Linked DNA regions of Homo sapiens. The protein of the gene in region 2 purifies or fractionates together with the protein of the main gene of each other region. This does not show direct contact. Each region holds a gene or a part of one and is shown on either strand. Other genes may lie near its edges. The genes, in order: SCARB2, TPST1 and GDPD5.

Region 1 (3,657 bases), on a different chromosome or scaffold from region 2:
AAATACTTTTGTCAGTTGTATATATATATGTATATATACACATATATATGATATACGTATATATAAACAATTTTTTATATATATATAATTTTTTTGTTTTTTGAGACCAGGTCTCACTCTGTTGCCCAGGCTGGAGTGCAGTGTTGCAATCATAGCTCACTGCAGCCTTGAATTCCTACGCTCCAGCCTCAGCCTCCTGGGTATCTGGAACTATAGGTGTATGCTACTATGCCCAGCTAATTTTTAAATTTTTTGTTCAGATGGGGTCTCCCTGTTGCCCATGCAGGTCTAAATTCTTGGCCTCAAGTGAGCCTCCTGCTTCAGCCTCCTAAAGTGTTAGGATTACAGGCATGATCCACCATGCCTCACCAATATATTTTTAATAACTCTCCAGATAATTCTGATGTAAAGCCAGGTGTGGGGGTCACTGCCCTGTCAGACAAGGATCAGGAGGTATACTGCTGACTTCAGACTTATTCCAAAATGATATCTTATTCTTTTTTTTTTTTTCTTTTTTAAAAGATGGAGTCTCGCTATGTTGCCCAGGCTAGAATCAAACTGGGCTCAAACGACCCTTCCACCATAGCCTCCTGAGTAGCTGGGTCTACAGGCACACGCCACCATGCCAGGCCTGAAAGGAGATTTTAAAATGAGATAGATAAGGGAGCAAAAGTGAGCACATTACTATTCAGGAGAAAGGGACTACACAGAGAGCTCTCCAGAGAAATTTTAAAGAGGAATTACAGCCCAAGAGGGAATCACAGGGCAAATATGAGAAGACCCTGAGTTCCGCCAGGGATCTGCTCAGAGGGAGGAGTCGCATCAAAATCACGTTCCCTCTCTGAGCCCTAGTTTCCCCAATTATAAAAACAGGCCGCTGAATGTCTACTATCTAGTAAGTTCATTGTGAATAATTCTGCAACATGTGGCTGTTAAAACTACTCTTCAAGATGAAGAAAATAGTTTTGTCAGTTGTGCCACTGATAATTCTGCCTCATTCATGGAAAGGAGCAGAGTAGCTCTGACATTAAGAAACACTGGGACATTTGTGTCAGGGTTTAAAACTAACTCTGCTTCAAAATCACTGAGAATCTTTGCCATGATACGTACTTTCTTAAAACTGAGTTGTCCACTTTTTCTTTTAGCTTTTTTTTTTTTTTGGTGGGGAGGTGCGGAATCACTCTATTGCCCAGGCTGGAGTGCAGCAGCACAATCATAGCACAGTGCAACCTCGAACTCCTGGGTTCAAGCAATCTCTCTGCCTCAGCCTCCTGAGCAGCTGTAACTACAGGTGTGTGCCGCCACACCCAGCTAATTTTTTAATTTTTTTTTTTTTGTAGAGACAGGGTCTTGCTATGTTGCCCAGGCTGATCTTGAACCCCTGGCCTCAAGCAATCCTCACATCTCGGCCTCTCAAAGTGCTGGGAATACAAGCATGAGCCACCGTGCCCAGCCTTAGCATTGTTTTGAACATGAAATCAGTTAATGTTTTGCATGCATTAACTACATGTAAATATGTAAAGCACTTAGGACAGTGACTGGCATACATCAGGTGCTTAGTAAACATGAGCTATTATTACTGTTAAGACTTCTAAACCACTGTCCAGAAAAAAAAACACAACATGGCATTCTAGAAATAAAAAGCATCACAGAAAAGCCATGATTTTTTTTTACCATTCAATAGCCATGTTATGAAACATTGTTCTTGAAAGAAACTGATCTTTCTATTGGGCTGACAATATATTCTTTTTTGTTTGTTTTGTTTTTTAGAGACAGTGGTCTCGCCATGTTGCCCAGGATGGACTTGAGAACTCCTGGGCTCAAGTGATCATCCCACCTCAGCATCCTTAGTAGCTGGGACTGTAGGTGTGCGCCACTACGCCCAGCTACATATTCTTTGTTGAACTCCAATCCTTCTGCATTCTTGACACCCCTATCATGTCCCCTCTCTGAGTTCTTACCATTCTTGCAGATGCTGACATTCAGAACTCCTGAGCCCAGGCAGTTTCCCTCAGGTATACAGAAGCCGGCATTGTCTGACGTATTGGCTAATATTTCTGCAGGAACTTTATACCGAAAGGCAGGCAGTCCCTGTACACTCTCATAGTCACTGAAAGTAATATACACTGACCTGTTAGGATGTAAGAATAAAAAGTGAATGTGGACTCTGGTCAGTGTAATCTGCCCGAAATCCGCAAGTTAGCAACAGTTCTCAGGTACAACATGGCCAAAAGCTCACAGGGTAAGTAGAAAGGAATGTTTGGAAGGCATTCTGTCAACTCAACGTGTAATAAAGCAGAAGATGAATTGTAGTGGAAGGTGTTTATTGTAGCAACGGTGATATCATCCAAACAAGAAAAAACAATATGTGGTACAAAATTAAGATGATAACATTTAGAATGGAGACTCACATAAAAAAGAAATAAGAGGCCTCTCTAGACCTGCATGGACATATGCCAGTGTGGACGGGCCACCGGCAAAGCCAGGGAAGCCAGGGCACGGCAGAGCCAAAGCTAAGGTAGAACAGGCAGCGATGGCCGTGGCCTCGTAGGGTCTTAGGCACTTGAAAAGTGTCACATTGGACAGATACTTTATTGGAATACACACTTTGATACTCAATCCCCCCCTCCAAGAAAAATCAGATTCCATATTTTGCCCCAGTCATTTATTTAAATGGAGTTCAACGTAATTCTGCCTTTCATTCTTACTGATTTCAAACATAGTCCCATGTAATATGACCACTGCTTACACTGCATAGTGCCTAACCACTTTGATGTACACAGTCACCACTGAGCCTTCAGCCCTTCCTTTGAAGGCTGGCCGGAAGAGCCTTCTGGGCCTCACTTTTTCATCTCTGAACCAGAGCTGTTGATACATCTCTCGCAAGGTTGTGAATAACATAGGTGGTTTCACTGCACAAACCAAACCACCCCTACAGCATTTTTTAATGAAAAATTTTAGGCACCAGAAAGAGATAAAATACTCTAACAAATACCTTTGTATCTGCCACTTAGACAAATAAAAATTATATTATGGATATAACTGAACCTGTCTACGTAATGCTCTTGATTCCATTCCTTCTCTGCCTCCCCTGAGGAAACCACTCTGCTGAAATATGGACAACAGTATCTTTTATTTGGCTTCCATGTAGAGACTACCTATTGACTGGAAGTAGACCAGGTCAGTTGATGCTTGACAGAGCATATCATAGTAACTAAGAGCCAACACTTAATATTGGTTACTGTGTGATGGGCCCTGGGCTAAGTATTTGACTAATACTAACTCATTTGTCCTCATAACAACCTCTAACATAGTTAACAATTTCTATCTTTGTTTTACAAATAAGGAAAGTGAGGTACAGAGTGGTTAAGTAATTTGCCCAAGGTCACACAGCTATAAGTGGTAGAGCCAAGATTCAAACCAACAGTCAGAAGTCTGTGCTGTGAACCAGTACACTATACTGTCTCGATGTGCCATCAGCATTTATCACTGATTATGCATAAATATCCATGCATAATAAGTGTGTCTGCATATATTCCTCATGCTTTTGGTGGTCTTGCAGTGAAAGACCTTATTTTTGAAAAAGAACTTATCTTTAAAGCTTTTACCTGCAAAAGTCAGATGGGAAGACATAAAGGACCTCATCTTTGGTTATTA
Region 2 (3,657 bases):
GGCAGAGTCTTGCTCTGTCGCCAGGCTGGAGTGCAGTGGTGCAATGTTGGCTCACTGCGACCTCCGCCTCCCGGGTTCAAGGGATTCTCCTGCCTCAGCCTCCAGAGTAGCTGGGACTACAGGCACCCACCACCATGCCCAGCTAATTATTGTATTTTTAGTAGAGACCAGGTTTCACCACGTTGACCAGGATGGTCTCCATCTCTTGACCCCGTGATCCCCCTGCCTTGGCCTCCCAAAGTGCTGGGATTACAGGCATGAGCTACTGCGCCCGGCAAGACTGTGTGTTTTTAAAACAAGAATGACTACGCATATTTGACCAGTGACTTGTTAAGCAGGAAAGAAAGAAACAGCTGGTCAGTTTGCAAAATCATGAGTTCAAGCTCTGTTTTATATCACTTATCAACTGATTTATTCAACCAACTTTTATCAAGTTTCTAAAATGTATCAAGTACTGTGCAAGGCAGTGATGAAAAGATAAATAAGGCATGGTTTCAGACTTCAAGGAATTCCTTAGCTATAAAAATGGACCAGCCGGGCGTGGTGGCTCACACCTGTAATCCCAGCACTTTGGGAGGCTGAGGTGGGCAGATCACCTGAGGTCAGGAGTTCGAGACCAGCCTCAATATGGAGAAACCCCGTCTCTACTAAAAATACAAAATTAGCTGGGCGTAGTGGTGCATGCCTGCAATCTCAGCTACTCAGGAGGCTGAGGCAGGAGAATTGCTTCAACCTGGGAGGCGGAGGTTGCGGTGAGCCAAGATCGCGCCATTGCACTCCAGCCTGGGCAACAAGAGCGAAACTCCATCTCAAAAAAAAAATAAAAATAAAATAAAAATAAAAATGGACCCAGCAGATATAATTTAAATAAAATGTGATAACTCCTTTAATAGGTAAATGTACACAGTACCAGGAAAGCAAGAAACTATGTCAACAAAGGCAATATTTATCCTGGTGTGTGTGTGTGTGTGCGCGCGCGTGTGTGTGGCAGACAGACAGACGGTCTCACTCTGTCACTCAGGCTGGAGAGCAATGGCATGATCATAGCTCACTGCAGCCTCAAACTCCTGGGCTCAAGCAATCCTCCTGCCTCAGCCTTCTACATGGCTGGAACTACAGGCATGTGCCATCACATGTGCCTGGCTAGTTTTTTCCTATTTTGTAGAGACAGGGATCTTGCTATGTTGCCCAGGCTGATCTCAAACTCCTGGTCTCAAGCAATCCTCCCACCTCAATCTGCCCAAACTCTGGGATTACAGGTGTGAGCCACCACACCCAGCTGTCCTGATATTTAAAGGATGAGTTACTACTATTGTTCTTCAGGGTTCTATCACTCCCTCTTTGGGCTCTCAGCCCAGTTCTCAGTCCTAGATACCTATCACCATCTCATGGGAAGCATCTTTAAAGTAACAAGGTCTGGCCCTGCACCAGACCAAATGATACAGAATCCCTGTGGATGCCTCGATCCCCCATCCTCATTCTTTAAAAGCTCCCCAGGTGGTTTTTAAGTAGTGCCTATGTTGAAAATCACTGAACCAGGCAATCTCACCTACTTCTGATGACTTCACTTTCAATTCTAGCACAGACCCTCCATATATATCTCCATCTTTAGGGCCAACTGCTCTCTCAGGCGATTTCCTGGGCATCAAGATGTTATCATTGGCTTCCTCCTTTTCCCTCAAAATTTGTTTATTTTCCTGTATTTCCTACCTGGATGAACAGAACCACCATTACCCAGACACCCAAGCCTGAACTCAGTATGTCATCCTTGACCCTTCCTTCTCCCTCTCTCTCACCTATACACCTAACCAGTTCTCCTTACTCCACAAATTCACTCCCAAATCTAACCCCTTAGCCTCACTGGCCTCATTATCTTTCACCTACATTCCTATAATGACCACCTATTGGTCTTTGTGCACCTAGTCTTGCCCCTCTCTAACCTGTTCTCTACAATGCTACCAGAGATCAGAGTAATTTTTCTGAAAATACACCTGGGGCCAGGCGCAGTGACTCACACCCATAATCCCAACACTTTGGGAAGTCAAGGCAGAGGGTTACCTGAAGCCAGGAGTTCAAGACCAATCTGGGCAACATAGCAAGACTCCCATCTCTAGAAAAATAAATAAACATAATCAAAATATACCTGGTCACAATACTCATTCATGTTACCTGCCAGAGTAGGGGATGCAGACATGAATCAAAACCCATCCTGATTTCAAAGCCCTACCCTTAGAGTAGAGAAAGACATGTAAACAAGTAAATGACAGTAGAGATGAAGAGACATGGATTGCAGGCAGATGTGGGAATGCTTTACTGCAGAGATAACCAGAAGCCTGTATAATCTACAGGTGGCTAAGTGGGAAAACGCATTCCACGGAGAAAGAGAAACATAAAGCCATTTAGGCATGTTCAGGTAATAGAGGTGATTTTATATGGCTGAGGCAAAAGGCAAGGCATGCAGCAAGACACAAAGCCTGAGATGGGAACAAGCCAGACTTTGTAAGATCTGCCCAGGAAGAAATCCTTCAAAGGTTCCTCGCTATCATCAGGATTATGTGTTAGGACACACAAGGTCATTCATGAGCGGCTCCCATATACCTTCCCAGCCTCATTGCTCATTATGCCCATTCTCCAGCCTTTCCAAATTACCAGTTCTTTCCCAAAAGCACCAGGTTATCACACATTTTTCTTTTTTCTTTAATTTTGAGATGGAGTCTCACTCTGCTGCCCAGGCTGGAGTCAGCTCACTGTAACCTCTGCCTCCCAGGTTCAAGCGATTCTCCTGCCTCAGCCTCCTGAGTAGCTGGGATTACAGGCGCCCACCACCACGCCCGGCTAATTTTTGTATTTTTAGTAGAGATGGGGTTTCACCATGTGGCCGGGCTGGTCTTGATGGTCTTGATCCGTCTGCCTCAGTCTCCCAAAATGCTGGGATTACAGGCGTGAGCCACCGCGCCTAGCCTAAGACACACTTTTCCATATGTTACCTTCTCTTCCAAACTGCCCATCTCCCCTTACCTTTCCTTGTCTAGATTCAGCTCTTCTGAAAACTTAGTTTACTGAGCACTATGTACTTGGCAATTTGCTAGAAACTGGAGATACAATGAGATATGACACAACTCTTTCTCTTAAAGGGTTCACTCTCAAGTCAGTGAGAAAAATAAGAAAACAGAACATTATAAATAGTAAAAATGGGCTGGGCACAGTGGCTCACGCCTGTAATCCCAGCACTTTGGGAGGCTGAGGCAGGCAGACTGCTTGAGGTCAGGAGTTTGAGACCAGCCTGTCCAACATGATGAAACCCTGTCTCTACTAAAAATACAAAAATTAGCTGGGTGTGGTGGCAGGCGCCTGTAATCCCAGCTACTCGGAAGGCTGAGGTACGAGAATCACTCAAACCCTGGAGGCAGAGGTTGCAGCGAACTAAGATGTTACCACTGCACTCCAGCCTGGGCAACAGACCAAGACTGTGTCACAAAAAAAAAACTAAAAATGGTATAAGTGGTAAAAATGGAGATGGAAGTATGTACAGGGTGCTGTGGAAACACAAAGAAAAGTCACCTAACCCAAACTAAGGAGGAGGGGTAGTCAGAAAAAGTCCTAGGTGCCTGTAGACAGAAACTTGTCCTCACTCTCACCAGGGTGATGCTCCCAGAG
Region 3 (2,558 bases), on a different chromosome or scaffold from region 2:
CTCCTCTGCATCCTCCCCATCTCAGTGTATCAGGCGCCCAAAGCCTTCCTCACTGCCCAGGCAGCTCTGACCACGTCCTCCCGCCCCCCGCCCGGCACTCCCATCGCAGGAACTCGACTTTCCCTGCCACTGTTTATATACGTAGCTGCTGCTTCCATCAGACTGGGAATGTTGACAGGGACTGGCAAAGAGCAAGGGTGAGGCCAACATTGTAGGATCCAAGTACGAACCAGGCAAAGGGGGATGGGCCTTCAAAACAGACTCCTCTCCCTACCCCACCCCTGCCCACCAACCATGGCACTGACACCAAGCCATGGTGGATGACAGGGTGGATGACTGTGTGTGTGGGGGTGTGTGTTTTCACACGTGTACTTATGCCTTTGTATGTCTGTGGGTATAATCCCGGTGGGTTTATGTACGTCTGTGCCCTTGTCCCTACCCATATGTGCCACATGTGAATGTGTGTGCATACACATCTGTTTGCATGTGGGGGTGCAGAAAGCTGGGCCCAGGGCCTGCCTCCACCTGTCTGCAGGGCTGTGTACCTGAGAAAATAAGCTTCTCCTTCATGATGCTGACGTCCCGGCTGGTCCGGCGCACCGCAGCACTCAGCATGATCTGCTCAGGGTTGTAGCTCCGTATGCCACCCAGGCGCCACCTGCAGAGATGGCCCCGTGGGCATCAGGTCTCTCCTCAGCCCTCCCTTGGAGCAGAGACCCTGCCTACTTCCAGAGCCTCTCTGGATGTGGCCCAAGAGACCAGCAGGACTCTTGTCCCACTGTACAATGGGGAAATAGGCCCAGAGAGGGCAGAGTTGGGGCTTGAATCAGAGCCTACTGACTCTCGGCCAGGGCTCCCTGGCCTCCCTCTTACCTCCAGAGCCGCCAGTCAGCAGCCCTGGCCCAGGACTAGGGTTGGTTAGTTCTGTCTCAGGTGTCCCCAGTAATGCACCTGGCTCTCTTTGAATGGGACAGATTTGGGAGCAGGAGGAGCTTAGTAGGCACGACTCTGTTGACCTAAGCTGGGGCACACACCAATCTCAGGGAGTCCCAGCTGATGTCTCTTATAGCTCCACCATCATGACCAGACTAAGTGAAGCCATTGGGGAGACCCCTTGAGAGGGAGGGAAGGAAAGCAGGGGGGTGGGGCCAGGTGGTAGGGGGCTTTGCCCAGAGCTGGTCTGCACAGGTTCCCAAGGCAAGGGGGTTAGAGTGACTTGGAGTGGGGCCAACTGCTGCTCTGTCCTGGCAGTCCTAATGCGGAGGGAGGTCAGAGCATGAATCCCTCTGATGGCTGAGACAGGTGCAAGGTGGGGGTAAAATTACTCAAGAGTGGGCTGGGAGGTGGAGCATGCACAGGGCATGAAGGGACCAGGCACTAAGTGGAAAGGACTCAGGTTTCTGTGCCCAGCCCAGGCCACTGTCTTCACTATTGTCATTCCTCTGAACTAGCCCCAGTCCCTGGCCTCTGAACTTAGACCTTTCCTGGGATCTAGGCAGAAGGATCACTGGACTCTCACCCCTGTCCCCACCAGGAGGAGGGGGTGATCAACTTGGGAACAAGAACCCAACTGCCTCAGGGACTGAACCCTGCTTGGGGGATGGAGAGAGCCAAGACTCCACAAGAAACCAACTGTGAGTTACTAGATGGGGTCAGCGCAGCAGAAGTGGACAGACAGATGGACAGGCGGATGGATGGATGAACAGAGCAGGCAGACAAGGGGAAAGCAGGAGGCGGGGGGTGGCACGGACACCCTGGCGAGGCTGGCTGCCCTATGAATCATTGAGGGCAGTGAGCAAATCTCTCTCTGTTCATCGCTGTGCCCCAGTACCATCAGTGCCTGCCGTGTCCCGGGAGCCTGACCTGTACTTGTTGAGTGAATGAATGGAAGAATAAGGCCCACAGGGAAAGAGTATCCTCCCCCGGCCTTGTCCCCCAGGGTACCTTCCTCCACCAGGCCTCTCCTGATCCCCAGGAGACAATGACACTGCCCTGGCTGTGTCTGAGCAGACCCAGCGTGTCTGTGCCAGCCACTGAATCACCATGGGGTGGCCTCCCCAGCACCCTGGGGCTCCATGTGAGAAGGCCCAACTCCTGCTGCAGACAGCATCAGCAACCAGTGTATGTGGATGTTGGTCAACTGGGCGGACACAGGAATGACTCAAGGAATGTCCCATAGCCAGGGACAGCATCTCCTCCTAGAAGCTGATTGGTGAAGCTGCCTGACCCAGGAGGGGCTAAGGCACTAGACGGAGGGAGACGTGGGTCCCTAAGCTCTAGGTCCCATCCTGGAAATTCATGTTGAAACCCAGAAGGACAGTGTCAGGCCAGGGTCTCTCGGCCAGGCATATCCAGAACAGGAAGCTCAGCCACTGTGGGGTCCTCTGAGGGGAATGAGGAAAAGGCTGTGTGTTGCGGGGAGCAAAGCAGGGATGGGTGTTAGAGATAGAATGTAAAGAAGAGAGAGAAAGAGATGGGAGAGGCAGAGAAAGGTAAACAGGAAGAGTGAACAGTGGGAGAGGCAGAGCCAGGGAGGGAGAAGATGGGAAGAGAGAGGC

Evidence for each region.
Region 1: the proteins of TPST1 (region 2) and SCARB2 purify together in Homo sapiens (affinity purification with western blotting; one study listed by BioGRID). This does not show direct contact.
Region 3: the proteins of TPST1 (region 2) and GDPD5 purify together in Homo sapiens (co-immunoprecipitation; one large-scale study listed by IntAct). This does not show direct contact.

The regions. Positions count from the first base shown.
Region 1 is NC_000004.12:76,172,183-76,175,839, forward strand, and holds part of SCARB2 (lysosome membrane protein 2), read right to left. Parts: coding exon 3,609-3,657; intron 2,132-3,608; coding exon 1,962-2,131; intron 1-1,961.
Region 2 is NC_000007.14:66,208,306-66,211,962, reverse strand, and holds part of TPST1 (protein-tyrosine sulfotransferase 1), read right to left. Parts: intron 1-3,657. UniProt on the Homo sapiens protein: Catalyzes the O-sulfation of tyrosine residues within acidic motifs of polypeptides, using 3'-phosphoadenylyl sulfate (PAPS) as cosubstrate.
Region 3 is NC_000011.10:75,436,391-75,438,948, forward strand, and holds part of GDPD5 (glycerophosphodiester phosphodiesterase domain-containing protein 5), read right to left. Parts: intron 659-2,558; coding exon 546-658; intron 1-545. UniProt on the Homo sapiens protein: Glycerophosphodiester phosphodiesterase that promotes neurite formation and drives spinal motor neuron differentiation.